3 separate regions of the Homo sapiens genome follow, and all the other regions are linked to region 2. Evidence: fine-mapped expression QTL. A gene starts in region 2. Each other region holds a variant in brackets. All regions are shown on one strand. Distances are from middle to middle.

The links. PIP is the estimated chance that this variant, and not a neighbour inherited with it, causes the effect.
Region 1: its variant is fine-mapped to the expression of CLEC10A in whole blood (TOPMed, PIP above 0.99).
Region 3: its variant is fine-mapped to the expression of CLEC10A in whole blood (TOPMed, PIP above 0.99). The same link has a PIP of 0.9 or more in blood mononuclear cells.

The regions. Positions count from the first base shown.
Region 1 is chr17:7,112,245-7,117,470 of GRCh38, forward strand. It overlaps ASGR2 (asialoglycoprotein receptor 2), which reads right to left and starts at 2,578. Exons shown (of 9, transcript NM_001201352.2): 1 at 2,371-2,578; 2 at 1,873-2,066. The coding sequence starts at 1,996. RefSeq lists enhancers at 424-924, 2,730-3,516. The variant G/T (reference allele first, on the strand shown) is at 2,881.
Region 2 is chr17:7,077,327-7,082,552 of GRCh38, forward strand. It overlaps CLEC10A (C-type lectin domain containing 10A), which reads right to left and starts at 2,925. Exons shown (of 9, transcript NM_001330070.2): 1 at 2,726-2,925; 2 at 1,420-1,559; 3 at 671-787. The coding sequence starts at 1,486.
Region 3 is chr17:7,097,593-7,102,818 of GRCh38, forward strand. It overlaps ASGR2 (asialoglycoprotein receptor 2), which reads right to left. Exons shown (of 9, transcript NM_001201352.2): 8 at 4,498-4,604; 9 at 3,734-4,148. The coding sequence ends at 3,983. Among named protein-coding and RNA genes, the nearest start is that of ASGR2, 15 kb to the right of the region's middle. The variant T/G (reference allele first, on the strand shown) is at 2,737.

The DNA of each region.
Region 1 (5,226 bases), 35 kb after region 2:
AGCAGAAAAAAATCAAGTGCTGAGACAAGTGGAAGATGGGCCCCGGTGAGCAGCTGATCAGTGTCAGCTCCCATGATGACGTTCCCCCAGCCCCCACCACCCGGGCTGCTGGAGGGAAATGCGGTGACTTTGCTACATCCCTTCAGACGGTCCCTCACTGGTGTCCCTCAGCCCATTCGCGTGAGCTCACTCTCCCATTAATTTCAGAAATCCTGGCCTCTCTCCAAGCCTCCTGCTCAAACTCTAAATTCTGTCACCCTCAGAAGATTCAGCAGCATCCCGTATTCTCTCTGAGTGTTCACTATGTACCGGGTGCCGTGTGGGCACTGGAGTTGCAGAGGAGAGTGAGGCGGACAGGGCCTCTGCCTGTGGGGACACCGCCTGGTGGGAAGTCCAGCCAGCCCCCTACAGAGAGAGGAGATGCTACTGGTGTTCCTGAGTGGTCCTCGGGAGGGACCTCCTATCCCTCCTGTCCCCTGCCCTGCCCTGCCCAGCACCGGCCCTCCCTCGGTTGGCCAGCCTCAGGAATGAGGAGTCCCTCATTCCAGCCCAGCTAACCAATCCCCTTCCTAAGCTCCAAGCCCCTGCTCCTCCTGCCTCCATGGAACCCGGCTCCACCACCAGCACCCACACACCTGACACTCCTCCATTCCTGGCTCTTGCCCTTCTGCCTAGCACTGCTCAGATCTCTCTCACCTTAAAATCTTTTCCCACCAGCCTGGGCAACATAGCAAGACCCCATTTCTCTAAAAAATTTTTTTTAATTTGCCAGGCACAGTGGTGCACACCTGTAAGTCCTAACTACTTGGGAGGCTGAGGTGGGAGGATGGCTTGAGCCCAGGAGTTCGAGGTTGCAGTGAGCTATGATCCTGCCACTACACTCCTGTCTCTAAAAAAAAAATGTCCAAGATACTTAGGTCCTTCAGTCAAGATTTATTACAGAAGGATCCAGGGAAGGGTCTTGGGAGATGAGAGGAGCAGGGATCTTCCAGGATCTCTCTGTGCTCACGTCCCCCACCCATCCCAACTCACCCCACCTCTACACACACACACACACACACATACAATCACATACACACACTAACACACACACTCACGCAACACACTCACACACACAACATACATAACACACTCACAACATACACACACAACACACACACTCGCACAACATACACACACGCACAACATACACAACACTCACACAACACACAAACATACATACACTCACACAATACACACACACAACACACACACAACATACACAACGTACACACACACAACATACACACACTCATACACAACATACATACACACAACATACACACAACATACACACACTCACATACACAACATACACTCGCACAACATACACACATGCACAAGATACACACACAACACACAACATACACTCACACACAAGATACACACAACATATACTCACACAACATACACACACAACACACTCTCACACACAACATACCCTCTCACATACACGACATACACACACACAACATATGCACGCTCTCGCGCACATATACACACACACAACATTCACTCACACACACACACAGAGTCCCAGCTGAATCTGCATTCCTCATATGCACATACGTGCACACGCACATACGAGGCACATGTGTTCTTGGGTTGGGAGGAGAAGGGCAGGCAGTTATCTTCCAGATCTCCCCACACCTCTGGCACATGCCTTTCCTGGGGTCCTGGGGTAGACAGGAAGGTGAGGTGAGGGAACAAGCGGGGGTGTCGGGCCCTCCTCAGTCCCTGTTCACAGAGTGGGTGCGGCAGAGACCTCAAAGGGACAGAGCAATCATGAGCTGAGACAGAGGGGGAGCAAAGCCGCAGAAACTGCACACTTGCCTTTCAAAAATGGATTTCCTCTCCTGGGATTCAGCCTGCGAGTGCCTGGCCCCTCACCTTGATGGAAAGGATGGTCATTTTCCTCCGAGCTCAGCTGCTGGATATCTTGAAAGTCCTTGGCCATGATGGGGCCCGGGCTGGAGCTGGAGCTGGAGCTGGGCTGGGCTGGGCTGAGGTTGCTCTGAGGGCTGGGGCTGGGGCAGAGGTGCAGATTCACGTGGAGGTTGATGGTGGGATGGAACGCAGGGTCGGAGGGGTTCGGGGTGGTGGCCTGGGTAGGATCTGAGGTTGGCAGGGCGTTTGGGATGAGGTTTGAAATCCCGCTGGGTCCTTTCCCTTCTCAGGAGACCGCTTGGGCCTTGACCTGGCCAGGAGACCCCTCCCCACGCTCATGGACCCGACCACCCACAGCTTCCCATGGGGTCCTCCCCATCCCTGAACCAAGGCCTCCTTGTTCCCAAGCATCCTCGTCCCAGTTGCCTCCCCAGCCTCAGTTACCTGTGAAAGGTGTGGAGAGCGGACACCTGGCTCCCGCAGGCAACCCTGGCCTTGGCCAAGGAGGGGTTAAAGCCAGGAGAACTGGGGCAGGTGGAGCTCACAGGGGAGAGGAGAGTGGAGGAGGGGCTGGTCCGGGCAAGGCCTGCACTGGAGGGTCTGAGTGTCCAAGCTCTAACCTGGCACCTCCTGGCCTGGGACTTTGGACAGTAAACAGAAGAGGAAACAGAGCTGTAACTCATTTGTGGGGTGGGGGCAGGGGACGGGGCTATCTCTGTTCTTATTCCCAGAGAGGGGGGTCCCCTGGGCTGCGCTCAACTCCACACGCCACTCACCCCACTCATTGCACCATTTGGAAGGGGTGCCAGGCCAGGAGGGGCTGGGGTGCAGTTTGCCGTTTCCCTCTCTCCCTCCCCCTCTCACTTCCTGCCTCCGAATTTACCAGAACTGTGGGTGTCTCCAAATATCCCTGACCAGGATCACAGCGACCAGTTCTCTACTCTTGCCCAATCC[G/T]GCATCTGAACCACAGACCCCAGCTTCCTGTGGGCTCGGCCACCAGACTCTCAGCTCTGGCCCAACTCGCTTCACTCTCCTGGAGAGTAAAGCCTCTCAAATCCAGAAGCTTCAGCAGGAGGAGGAAGGGGCTTTGCAGAAAAACAGCTCTCCTCGCAGGAGGAATCCAACCTCAGAGAGCCCCGTCCGGCCCAGACCCTGCCCCAGCCCAGGCAACACAAACACTGTCCTCAGGCCCAGCCACTGCCCTAAATTCTCCAAGGTGTTTCTTCATTTATCACAGCACAACACCCCCACGAGGCAGGACTTCTGTTACTCCCATTTCACAGGGTTCGGAAGCGGAGCCTCGGAGAGATGAGGCAACTTGCTCTAGGTGGTGGCCCAGGTGAGTAGAGAAACTGGCAAAGCAAAATGGAGTAAAGAGGGGAAAATAACATCATAACAAAAGGTCTGGCCGGGCACGGTGGCTCACGCCTGTAATCCCAGCATTTTGGGAAGCCGACGTGGGTGGATCACCTGAGGTCAGGAGTTCGAGACCAGCCTGGCCAACATGGTGAAACTCTGTCTCTACTAAAATACAAAAATTAGCCGGGCGTGGTGGCAGGGGCCTGTAATCCCAGCTACTCAGGACGCTGAGGCAGGAGAATCGATTGAACCTGGGAGGCGGAGGTTGCATTAGCCAAGATTGCGCCATTGCACTCCAGCCTGGGCAACAAGAGAGAAACTCCATCTCAAAGAAAAAAAAAAGAAAGAAAGAAAAAGAAAAGAAAAGGTCTTCATGGTCCTACGAGGAAGACTGGCTTCCATGAAGCAAGGAACGTGGCTGACTGTCTACACTTGCGCTAACAATAGCTCGGGAAAGAAAACACAGTTTTTGTGCATGATTTTCTGACCCTCACCAAACTTGGGCGGATGGCTACGGGCAGGGTTTCTTATAAAGCTGCTCGTTTCCCCGGGTGCCGAAAAGGAATTCAAACAGAGGCCTTTTCTGTTCTTGTAACTTGCTGACCCACATGGGAAGTAGCCACCCCCCCAGTACCCTGACATTCCCACCCAGCCACCAGGCAGCAGCAGCCGCTGGGCTCTCTGACTGCAGCCCACAGCGAGAGACGAATTTCATGCTGTGATCCAGAACATACACACAAGCACCCGCACACACAGGTGCATTTGTATGTGTTACTTTCTCCTGGATCCCCAGTGCCTGCCACACAGTAGCTGCTCAACAAGTATCTACTGAGTGAGTGAGTGAATAGAATAATGCGTTTGGAAATACACGGTTGACACTAAAGTTTGATGGGACAATGCTCACCTTACTACGTGCCTTCTGTTGAGTTTCCCAGTCCATTAATGGGTCACAACTCAAAGTCTGAACAACACTGCTGTGAAGCCCCCATCTTAAGGGGCATGTGGATTTAGTCCTGAGATACAGGTAAGAGCTTCACAGATGGATTGTCTACTGCATGTCAAGCTTTGCCAACTGCCAACCAGGGATGGGGCCATCCTCATTGGCCACCCCTTTGACTGAACCAATTCCACGTTTCAGGGCTTGTCACTTACACCCCCACTCACGGCACTACAGGGAGAGAAGGGACAGAGAAAGCCAGACTCATCTGCGTCCTTCTCTTTCTCCCTATTTGAAAATCATTTTAACTTAGAAGTTAACATGTACTTGGACTATTTCTGAAGTTTCCATATTGTTGGAGGTTTTCTGTTTTGGGTTATGGAATCCTATTTTCTTTGATTGATTTTTTTTTTTTTTTTTTTTGAGACAGAGTTTCACTCTTGTCACCCAGGCTGGAATGCAATGGCGCGATCTCAGCTCACTGCAACCTCCACCTCCCGGGTTCAAGTGATTCTCCTGCCTCAGCCTCCTGAGTAGCTGGGATTACAGGCATGCACCACCACGCCCGGCTAATTATTTGTATTTTCACCATGTTGGCCAGGCTGGTCTTGAACTCCTGACCTCAGGTGATCCGCCCATCTCAAACTCCCAAAGTGCTGGGATTATAGGCGTGAGCCATCGCGCCCGGCCTTATTTGGTTGATTTTGATTTGGGGTTTATTTGTACCTCAGACACAAAGGTTAGATTGGTCATATTCCTTACTTCATGACACTAGGTCTTCCTCAGAGGTCTGAGCTAAACCTTTGTCCTGTTTCGTTCTTCCCTAGCTCCCATCCTGTTTCCCCTCACTAATTCTATACTCTCTACTCTCTATAGGCAGCCAGAAGTCTGAGTGCCCTGACAGTCCCCACAGATGGTGCCCATCAATTTCTCCCCTCACCACATGTGCAAGTCACACCACTCAGCCAGGGGTAGAGTCTGTTTCCCCTCCCCTTGAGTCTGGG
Region 2 (5,226 bases):
TTCCCATCAATCACTCCATCAGTGCTCCGACCACTGTTCTCATCAATCACTCCATCAGTGCCCCCCACTATTCCCATCAGTCACCCCATCAGTGCTCCCATCACCATTCCCATCGATCACTGCATCAGTGCCCCCCACCATTCCCAACAATCACTCCATCAGTGACCCCCACCACCATTCCCATCAATCACCCCATCAGTGACCCCCCACCGTTCCTATCAATCACTCCATCAGTGCCCCCCCACCATTCCCATCAATGACTCCATCAGTGACCCCCAACCATTCCCATCAATCACTCCATCAATGCCCCCCACCATTCCCATAAATCACTCCGTCTGTGCCCCCACCACCGTCCCCATCAATCACTCCATCAGTGCCCCCCTACCGTTACCATCAATCACTCCATCAGTGCCCTCTCCTCCATTCCCATCAATCACTCCATCAGTGCCCCATCAGTGCTTCAGTGGCTCTGTTGTGACCCCCATGACTGTTGGTAGCACTGCCCTCACCATGCCCCATTGTTATCTCCACAGCTGCCCCCAACACTGTGCCCTGCATTGCTCCTACTGTGGACCTCACCATCGCCCCACCACTGCCCTACTGTAGCACCCCATTATTTATCTTCTACCCCATTATTTCTCTCTTCCCTGTCCACCCCTGTGACCCTCACTTTGGAATCCAACCACACAGATGATGACCAGCAGCAGGAGGCCGAGGCCCAGGGACAGCAGGAGATGGCAGGGCCCAGAGCAGAGACGCTGCAGGAGGGACTGGAGAGGAAGTGGCCCTGCAAGAGGAGAGAGTGTCAGGATGAGGAGGGTCCAGACACCGGAGACGGGAGAAGGAGAGGGCCCAGGGAGCTGTCTAGTGAGGAGGGCTGGGCACAGGGGACTCCAGGGGAGGGTTGGACAAGGAGGATTTTGGGGTGGGGGATGCCCAGGCCTTTGACTTCAGGGACCAGCACAAGTCCTCAGTCACACAGGCCCCTCACACCCCTGGGGACCCACGTGATAGCGATATGAGGGGTCCCATGGTCAGAGCTGGGGGCAGGGGCAGGAGGACACAGGGAGAGCTGGGGGCAGCCAGCCCTTCATGGGCTTATGCTCACCTACCTGCTGGACAATCAGGTTCACAAATGAGTTTCCTTCCAAACCCAACTACTTATCTTTCCCTCCACCAATGCGCAGCTCTCATCCCCACCCCACAGAGCATCAGAAGCTGGGTCCACTGTGATCCTCCCTGTCCCAGTCTTTCTAGAGACCTTGCATCCTCTTCACACTAGGCCCGTCAGAGGCTGGGGCCTGACCTCCTCAGAGTTAGGACCCACCAGTGCGCGTGGTGGAGGTACAGAAATGATAGGAGAAATCCTTCTAAACATATAAAGAGGGCATTTTAGGAGAGTTTCCCCTTTCCTCTTACCATTTTTAAACCCCTGGACTTTCACCTTATTCTCCAAGTACTGGAAGTTTTCATACGTCCTTGTCATGCTTGGGCCAACACGGCTCTGAGGTTGTCACAGCTGAAATGGAGGCAGGGCCGGCGCCCAGTCTGGGGTGGAGCTGGGGAATAGGAGGTTGGGACTAAGTTGGAGCCAAGGGCAGGGCTGACGTTGAGTTGGGAGATGAGGCTCAGGTTGAGAATGAGCCCAGGGTTAAGACGGAAATGAGCCTGGGTTTGCAGTCGAGTTAGAATTGGGGTCGAGTTGAGTTTGGGAGTGAAACTGGAGGGTAACGTTGGAGCTAAACGCATTGCTAGGACTACCCAGTGGGCCAGTTAATCAGGCAGGACTGGAGGTTGTATCTCATGCTAGGATTGGGGTCAGTATGCACGTTGGAGCCATGGATGGAATTGGGGTTAACTTTGGTGGTGAATTTGGAAACAGAATAGAGTCGAGGTTCAATTTTGGCTTTGGGCTGGTGTTAAAATTCAAGTTGATTCTGGGGTTGGGGTTGAAGTAGGAGCTGGGTGGGGGGCGACAGGTGCGGTGGCTCACGCCTATAAATCCCAGCACTTTGGGAGACCGAAGCAGACAGATCACTTTAGGTCAGGAGTTTGAGACCGGCCTGGCCAACATGGTGAAACCCCATCTCTACTAAAAATACAAAAATTAGCTGGGTGTGGTGGTGTGCGCCTGTAATCCCAGCTACTTGGGAGGCTGAGGCAGGAGAATCACTTGAACCCAGGAGGCAGAGGTGGCAGTGAGCCGAGGTTGTGCCGTTGCACTCCAGCCTGGACGACACAGTGAGACTCAGTCTCAAAAAAAAAGAAAATGTAGAAGCTGGGGTTAGTATTGGGATTAGGGCATGGCTGGGCTGAGATGAAGATAAGGCTGGAAATGGGCCACCAATGAGGCTGAGTCTGAGTCTTAGTTTATTTTTATTTTTATTTATTTATTTTTTGAGATGGAATTTCGTTCTTGTCGCCCAGGCTGTTGTGCAACGAGGCCGTCTCGGCTCACTGCAACCTCTGCCTCCTGGGTTCACAAGATTCTCCTGCCTCAGCTCCCGGAGTCTTAGTTTATGACAGGGGATTGTGGCTGCCGTAACCCAATCTAGAATCCAGTGAAGGGAACAGAGTCTCAAATCTCCACGTAGTAATTAAACCCCACACTGCCGCCTTATATTTATTTTCATTTAGTCCCACCCAAGACCCAAAGTCCCCCTCTCCCTGCTTCCTCTGACATCCCCTGTCCCCTGGGTCTCACCGGCACCGGCAGCACCATTACCTGTGGGAGGTCTGGAGGGTGTGATTCCCACGTTGGTTGTGCTGCAAGGACCAGAGGTGGGACGTCACTCAGAGTTGGGAGCGCTGTGTCCTGGAGAGCTGGGGTAGAGGTGACTGGAGTCCTGCTGGTCTTGGGTCTGAAATCCCAGGAGCCCTATCATCTGGGACATCCCATCTCCTCAACTTTAGACAGTAAATGAGAATGAACAGGGATTAGAACACACAGAGACCATGTGTGGGTGGGGAGAGTTGGGTTTGAGGCCAGCTCTGTTCTCCTCCTCCAGGCCATGCCTACTTCCTTTCCTCTTCTCGGAGCTTCCTCATTTTTACCATCTGGGAGCAGGGCTGGATCAGAGGTACAATCTGCTGTTGCTCCTCTACCCTACACTTCCTTTCACTTCCTGCCTCTACATTTCCCAGAATTGTTGGGTCTCCATCATCGCACCTCTGATCCTAGAGAAGCCCAGTCTGTTCTCTTGCTCAATCCTGGCCTGAGTCCCTGGCATCAGCATCCTCTGGGTCCCAGTCATTCGGCTGCTCAGCTGTGGCCTCGCTCGCCTCACTCCACTCGGAAGGAGGGAAGGGGGTGCCAGAGAATAGAACTTCTTGGCCCTAATAGGACGGGAGAAGCCAAGGAAAAGAGCAAATTTTATTGAGTAATCTGTGATAGGATTATGCCAGACATTTACCTTCCACAACCATTCCCCCCAAGCACCTGGGGAGGCATTTTGGATGACGGACTAAAGGCTCAGAGCCCAAGATCACTCACAGCTTGTAAGGAGACAGTTTGGCACCCTGCTCTGGCTCTCAGCACAGGCGCTGTCTTCATGAACAGGATTCCATTTCATCCCATGATCCCTGCTCAACCCCTAAGGGAGCTGCCCTGAATCCACGCGCACATCCCTTTCAGTAGGAAGGAAACTGAGTATCTTACAAGGTGGAGAAGGAGAAGAAATACATTTTAGGTTATATTTTGTATGTACATGGGGTTGTGTTCTGCTATGTGCTTTTTTTTTTTTTTTTTGGAGTTAACAAGCTATCAGGAACATTTCTCCACATCAGTTTATAAAATGTACTTGATCTACCTGCACCTCATTTCATCATAGGCACCGTAATTTATTTATTTAGCATTTCTCTATTGACAGAAATAAATCAGAAATTTAAGTTGTTTCTTTTTCTTTTCTTTTTTATTTTATTTATTTATTTATTTTTTTGAGACAGAGTCTCACTCTGTTGCCCAGGCTGGAGTGCAGTGACACAATCTCGGCTACTGCATCTCCTGGGTTTAAGCGATTCTCCTGCCTCAGCCTCCCGAGTAGCCGAGATTACAGGTCCCGCCACCACACCCAGCTAATTCTTGTATTTTTAGTAGAGAGGGGTTTCACCATATTGGCCAGGCTGGTCTTGACCTCCTGACCTCACATGATCTGCCCGCCTCAGCCTCCCAAAGTGCAGGGATTACAGGCGCGAGCCACCGCACCCGGCCAGGTCGTTGCCAGTTTTGTTTTTATTTGGTATTCGGTATTTTGATTAGTATATGTCGCAGGTTCGGTTTTTGGAAGCCAAGGTTGAGGCTGAATTTGGGGTACAAGCTATTTATTAGGGATTAGCACTTCGAAAAGGAAAGTGGATGAAATGGTGCTGGGCAGAGGGAGAAGCCCAGCACTTTGGAGAGCTTCAACCAAACCAACAGGGAGCTCTGGGTTCAAACAATGCCACCCCCGGGAGCTGTCCAGCATTGGACTGCCACAGGGTCCTGTAGAGCACCAGCTCCTTCGGTCACTGGCAGTCAGCCCTGACATGGGTGTGACCTCAGGAAGCAGCTGTCTGCAGGTTACACTCCCCACAGTGGGTCACCACATCCTTCCTAGAAGGGGGACCTGGGTAGCTCTCTGTGTGTCTACCACAGTCTTGCAGTGTATTCACATATTAATTTGGAGATAATCAACATTTTGACATTGTTGAATCTTCCATGAAAAGAACATGATATTTCTCCATTCACTAACTTTTTTTTTTCAGTCTGGTTCAGTGGGTTTGAAGCTTCTTTTTTTTTTTTTAGTTCTGGGATACATGTGCAGAATGTGCAGGTTTGTTACGTAGGTATACGTGTGCCATGGTGGTTTGCTGCACCTATCAACCCATCACCTAGGTTTTAAGGCCCGCATACATTAGGTATTTGTCCTAATGCTCTCCCTCCCCTTGCCGCCCACCCCCTGACAGACCCTGGTGTGTGATGTTCCCCTCCCTGTATCCATGTGTTCTCATTGTTCAGCTCCCGGTTATGAGTGAGAACATGCGGTGTTTGGTGTTCTGTTCCTGTGTTACTTTGCTGAGAATGATGGTTTCCAGCTTCATCTATGTCCCTGCAAAGGACATGAACTCATTCTTTTTTATGGCTGCATAGTATTCCATGGTGTATATGTGCCACAATTTCCTTATCCAGTCTATCATTGATGGGCATTTGGGTTGGTTCCAAGTCTTTCCTATTGTAAATAGTTCTGC
Region 3 (5,226 bases), 20 kb after region 2:
TGATCATGCCACTGCACTCCAGCCTGGGTGACAGAGCGAGACTTTGTCTCAAAAAAAAAAAAAAAATATATATATATATATATGTGTGTGTGTGTGTGTGTATACACATATATATGTATATGTACACATACAATTTATATATATATGTATATATAGCATTTTCTAGATTCTGTGATGTTTCTGGTAGCTCTCTGCTTTTGAAATTTGTGACTTTTTAAATTTAAATAAATGGTAATTTTTATGCTTAATTTTATATCCATAATTTTGTAATTGTTCTTACAGAGGGCTCCCCAAAATTGTGTACACCTCAGGCCCCATAAAACTTGGAATCACTTCTCTGGCTCTAGGAAAAAGTACACCAAGTACAACTAAAATACTGATTATACGACTGGTTTGCACGTCTGGAAAAATTATATTGTCAAGCTTTTTACAGTTCAGGAAGACTCAGCAATAAGTTAAAAGAATATGAGGCAAATTTTTTTAATGGAATACTGACTACTTTCAGAAGAAATGAGAGTTGTGCAAGAAAGGGAATGTAATCAGATTATAGTAGTTGACTCAGCAGTAACCATATTGACACAGATACAACTGATACAAATTTTAAAGTAGTATTTAAATATAAATTGTAGACTACATTGGAAGATTTTACCTCGTTTACATGATAGCGACTAAATAATGTCTACAACTCATACGAAGATGAAATATCAGTTTGTGTGTCTTACTTAGAACTGCAGATGTCAGTACTAGAAGAAACAGCTAGAATCACTGAAAGCAGTTTCTCCAGGCAGCAAGAGGAGCTAAAGGGGGCAGGTCAAGTAACCTAGAGCCCTGTAAAACTTCTAGTTTTATAGACTTTATACTTCTAGTTTTATAGACTTTATAAAATTTCTACTTTTCTATAAAAATTCTAGTCCTATAAAACTTTAGAGTGTATTATTACTTCCATAATTTATTTTTTGAGAAAAGATCTCGCTGTCTTACCCAGGCTGCAGTGTAGTGACACAGTCACAGCTCACTGCAGCTTCAATTTCCTGGGCTCAAACTATCCCCTCATCTCAGCCTCCCAAGTAGCTGGGACTGCAGGGATGCACCACCACATCCAGCTGGGGTGTGTGTGTGTGTGTGTGCATGTTGTACAGACTGGGTTTCGCCATATTGCCCAGGCTAGTCTCAAACTCCTGAGCTCAGGCGACCCACCACCTCAGCCTCTCAAAATGCTAAGATTATAGGCATGAGCCATTGCACCCAGCCTATTTTCACGGTTTTTTAAATTTAATCCCAATCGTGTACATTTTGAAGGGGCAATCCTAGAAAATTTTTCAACTGAAAAGTGGGAAGTCTTGACCTATCCCAAGCTTATGAGCAAAAAAATTACTTTGAAACATTCTATGTGAAAACAAAGAAACAAAAGTGGTAACTACTTGCCCCCTACAGAGAATGATTACATAATGCATGGTACATCCCTACTTTGGAATTCTCTACAGCTGCTAAATCCAAGGAGGTAAAACCTGCCAGGTAATGGCATAGATTAGACTGGTGTCCACGAGACACTGTGAAGCGGAACAGGCACTATGTAATGACATAATATTGCATCTACTCATGTACACAGGAAGGGCTCTGGCAGGGGACACAGGAAAGAGTTGACTCTGGGGAGACGGAGGAGGACTGAGAGGACACTCGTGTGCGTGCGTGTGTGTGTGTCATTTAAAACATTTTTTTACTAATAGAATGTATTACTTCTGTACTTTAAAAATTTAAAAATATGGGGCCGGGCCCCGTGGCTCATGCCTATAATCCCAGCACTTTGGAAGGCAGAGGCGGGCGGATCACCCGAGGTCAGGAGTTCAAGATCAGCCTGGCCAACATGGCGAAACGCTGTTTCTACTAAAAATACAAAAATTAGCTGGGTGTGGTGGCGCATGCCTGTAATCCCAGCTACTCGGGAGGCTGAGGCAGAAGAATCGCTTGAACCCGGGAGGTGGAGGTTGCAGTGAGCCAAGACCGCACCATTGCACTCCAGCCTGGGCAACACAGCAAGACTCCAACTTAAATAAATAATATAACCGCTGAATAGTCTTTTTAAGGTCAGTTTCAGAATGTTCTTGGAGCGGGAAGTTTGCCCACTGTGGAGATTGTTGGTGACACCCTGTGTTGAAGATATGTCTAGATCCGCTTGGGGTCAAAAAGACAGAGCCACGGTGGTGAGAAAGTGACTTACCCATCCTCCTCCTCGTCGTGACCATTTTCCTTGAAGGCTGAGAGTGGAGCTGGGGTATGCCCTGCGACCCGGTCTGGGGAGAACCCAACCGCAGAGAAAGATGTTTCCTTTGGGAGCCCTGGTGTGTCCGGAATTGGTGGGTTCTTGGTCTCACTGACTTCAAGAATGAAGCCGCGGACCCTCGCGGTGAGTGTTACAGTTCTTAAAGGCGGCGTGTCTGGAGTTTGTTCCTTCTGATGTTCAGATGTCTTCAGAGTTTCTTCCTTCTGGTAGGTTCATGGTCTCACTGGCTCAGGAGTGAAGCTGCGGAACTTCGTGGTGAGTGTTACAGCTCTTAAGGCAGTGTGGACCCAAAGAGTGAGCAGCAGCAAGATTTATTGCAAAGAGCGAAAGAACAAAGCTTCCACAGTGTGGCAGGGGACCCGAGTGGGTTGCCGCTGCTGGCTGGGGCAGCCTGCTTTTATTCTCTTATCTGGCCTGATTGGTGCGTTTACAATCCCTGAGCTAGGCACAAAGGT[T/G]CTCGACTTCCCGACCAGAGTAGCTAGATACAGAGTGTCAATTGGTGCATTCACAAACCCTGAGCTAGACACAGGGTGCTGATTGGTGTGTTTACAAACCTTGAGCTAGATACAGAGTGCCAATTGGTGCATTTACAATCCCTTAGCTAGACATAAAGGTTCTTCAAGTCCCCACCAGACTCAGGAGCCCCGCTGGCTTCACCCCATGGATCCTGCACTGGGGCCGCAGGTGGAGCTGCCTGCCAGTCCCGCGCCCTGCGCCCGCACTCCTCAGCCCTTGGGTGGTCGATGGCACTGAGCGCGCCCTGGAGCAGGGGGCGGCGCTGGTCGGGGAGGCTCGGGCCGCACAGGAGCCCACGGAGCGGGGGTCGGGGAGGCTCAGGCATGGCGGGCTGCGGGTCCCAAGCCCTGCCCCGCGGGAAGGCAGCTAAGGCGTGGCGAGAAATTGAGCACAGCAGCTGCTGGCTCAGGTGCTAAGCCCATCACTGCCCGCGGCCGGTGGGGCAGGCCGGCCACTCCGAGTGCGGGGTCCGCCGAGTCCACGCCCACCCGGAAATCGCGCTGGCCCGCAAGCGCCGCTCCCTCCACACCTCCCTGCAAGCTGAGGGAGCCGGCTCCGGCCTTGGCCAGCCCGGAAAGGGGCTCCCACAGTGCAGCGGCGGGATGAAGGGCTCCTCAAGTGCCGCCAAAGTGGGAGCCCAGGCAGAGGAGGCGCCGAGAGCGAGCGAGGGCTGTGAGGACTGCCAGCACGCTGTCACCTCTCACTGGGAGCCAGGCGGACCCTCCAGCCACAGCCCGGCCGACCCCTTTCCCACCAGTGCCAGCCACTAAGCCTGTCTGCTCCAAGCCCCTTTCCCGTTTCCCTGACCAATGTCCCTCGGGATTAGGGACCAAGGAGCAGCTGTCTAGGATGCGCGCCTTGCGTCTTCCATGCCCTCCCCTCTCCCTCCTCTTTGCATGCTGTTTCTCAGTTCCCAATAACCAGGCCACACAGAGATTCAAGCATTTGTTTCTTCTTTCCTACGCCATTGAAGAGGCTGACGATTATAATAATTACAATGAATTACAGAAGGAGGTGGGATCTCAGTCCTCCAGGGTCAGGGACTCTTAAACTACCTCCTTTCTCTCTTTGCTCAGCTCTTCCCCATACCCCTGTCTCAGTGTTTCTTCCTTTCCTCAAAATCCTCAACAGAGAAGCCAGAGCTGGGCAGGTGTGGGGTATGGGTTAGCCAGAGGTGTGCTGGGGTCAGGCCACCTCGCCGGTGGCATTCCGCCTTTTCTCACACACCCAGCGGTACACCTGCAGGCAGAAGTCATCGTTCCAGCGGCCATCCGGCTGGACTTCAACACAGTCTTCACTTCCACCCAGCTCGTGCCCGTGCCAATTATCTGGCTGAGTGACAGCCCAGTTCCTAAGGAGGCAAGAGAAAACTCGGACTCTGCCACGGTGGTGAGAAAGCGACTTACCCATCCTCCTCCTCTTCATGACCATTTTCCTTGAAGGCCGAGAGTGGAGCTGGGGTGTGCCCTGCTACCCAGTCTGGGGAGAACCCAACCGCAGAGAAAGATGTTTCCTATGCCCAGTCCCAGCAACCCTCACCCCCAGCCCAGAAGAGCACAGCTTTGGAGGGGTTGGAGTCTGGGGAGGAGAGGATTGGGGAATTTGGTCCCTGAGGGACGAGTCAGGGTAGCTTGGAGTGAAAGGCCAGGGGGCTGTCCCCAGAGAAATCTAACAAGGAGATGAGGGAAGAGGCCACTTACTTGTAGTTGTGCCTATAGTCTGTGCCATCCACCCATTTCCAAGAGCCATCACTGTCCGTGAGACCTATCCAGGTATTGAAGGGGTTCGTGTGTTGTACAATGAATTTCTGGAAACACAGGCAAACAGGAAATTTCTAGTCTCTTGTGCCTTTCTCCTCCCTCCATGCAGGCATGGAACTGTGGCCCCTCTCAGCCTTCCCCAGCCTGATCTGCCCTCAGGCTGAAGCACCAGCTCCCGACAAGACTGCTTCCTAGCTTTTTCTTCCGTCACTCTAGCTACTGTTCAGTGCACATTTGCTAGGCTAGACTTCGTGCTGTCTGTGCAAAGATGATCTCATTTAATCCTCAGAAGCTCTCTAAGATGGGCACTGCAGTGACCACATTTTGCAGGGAGTTGCAGAGCCAGAGAGCCAATCCTGTACCTGAGTTAGTGGCCACTGTCCCCTGTTCACAGCCCTGGGCCGGTGTCCCCCTTCATTCCCAGCTTATGGCTCTACCCAAGTTCCGGTTCTCTCCCTGTCTTCTGCCCACAGCCTCGAACTCCTGGGATCCCGACCCTGGTCCCTGCTCTTACTGCCCCCCAGACCCCAGACCCACTGAAGATCTCAGTTTCACTGGCCTCTCAAGTACATTGGCCCCTGGTAGCTCTCGCTTCTATGTGTAGCTGTCATTTCCTGAGATCTGTCAGGCCCGGGAGCTTCTAAGCTTGGACCCACTGCCCAGGGCCCC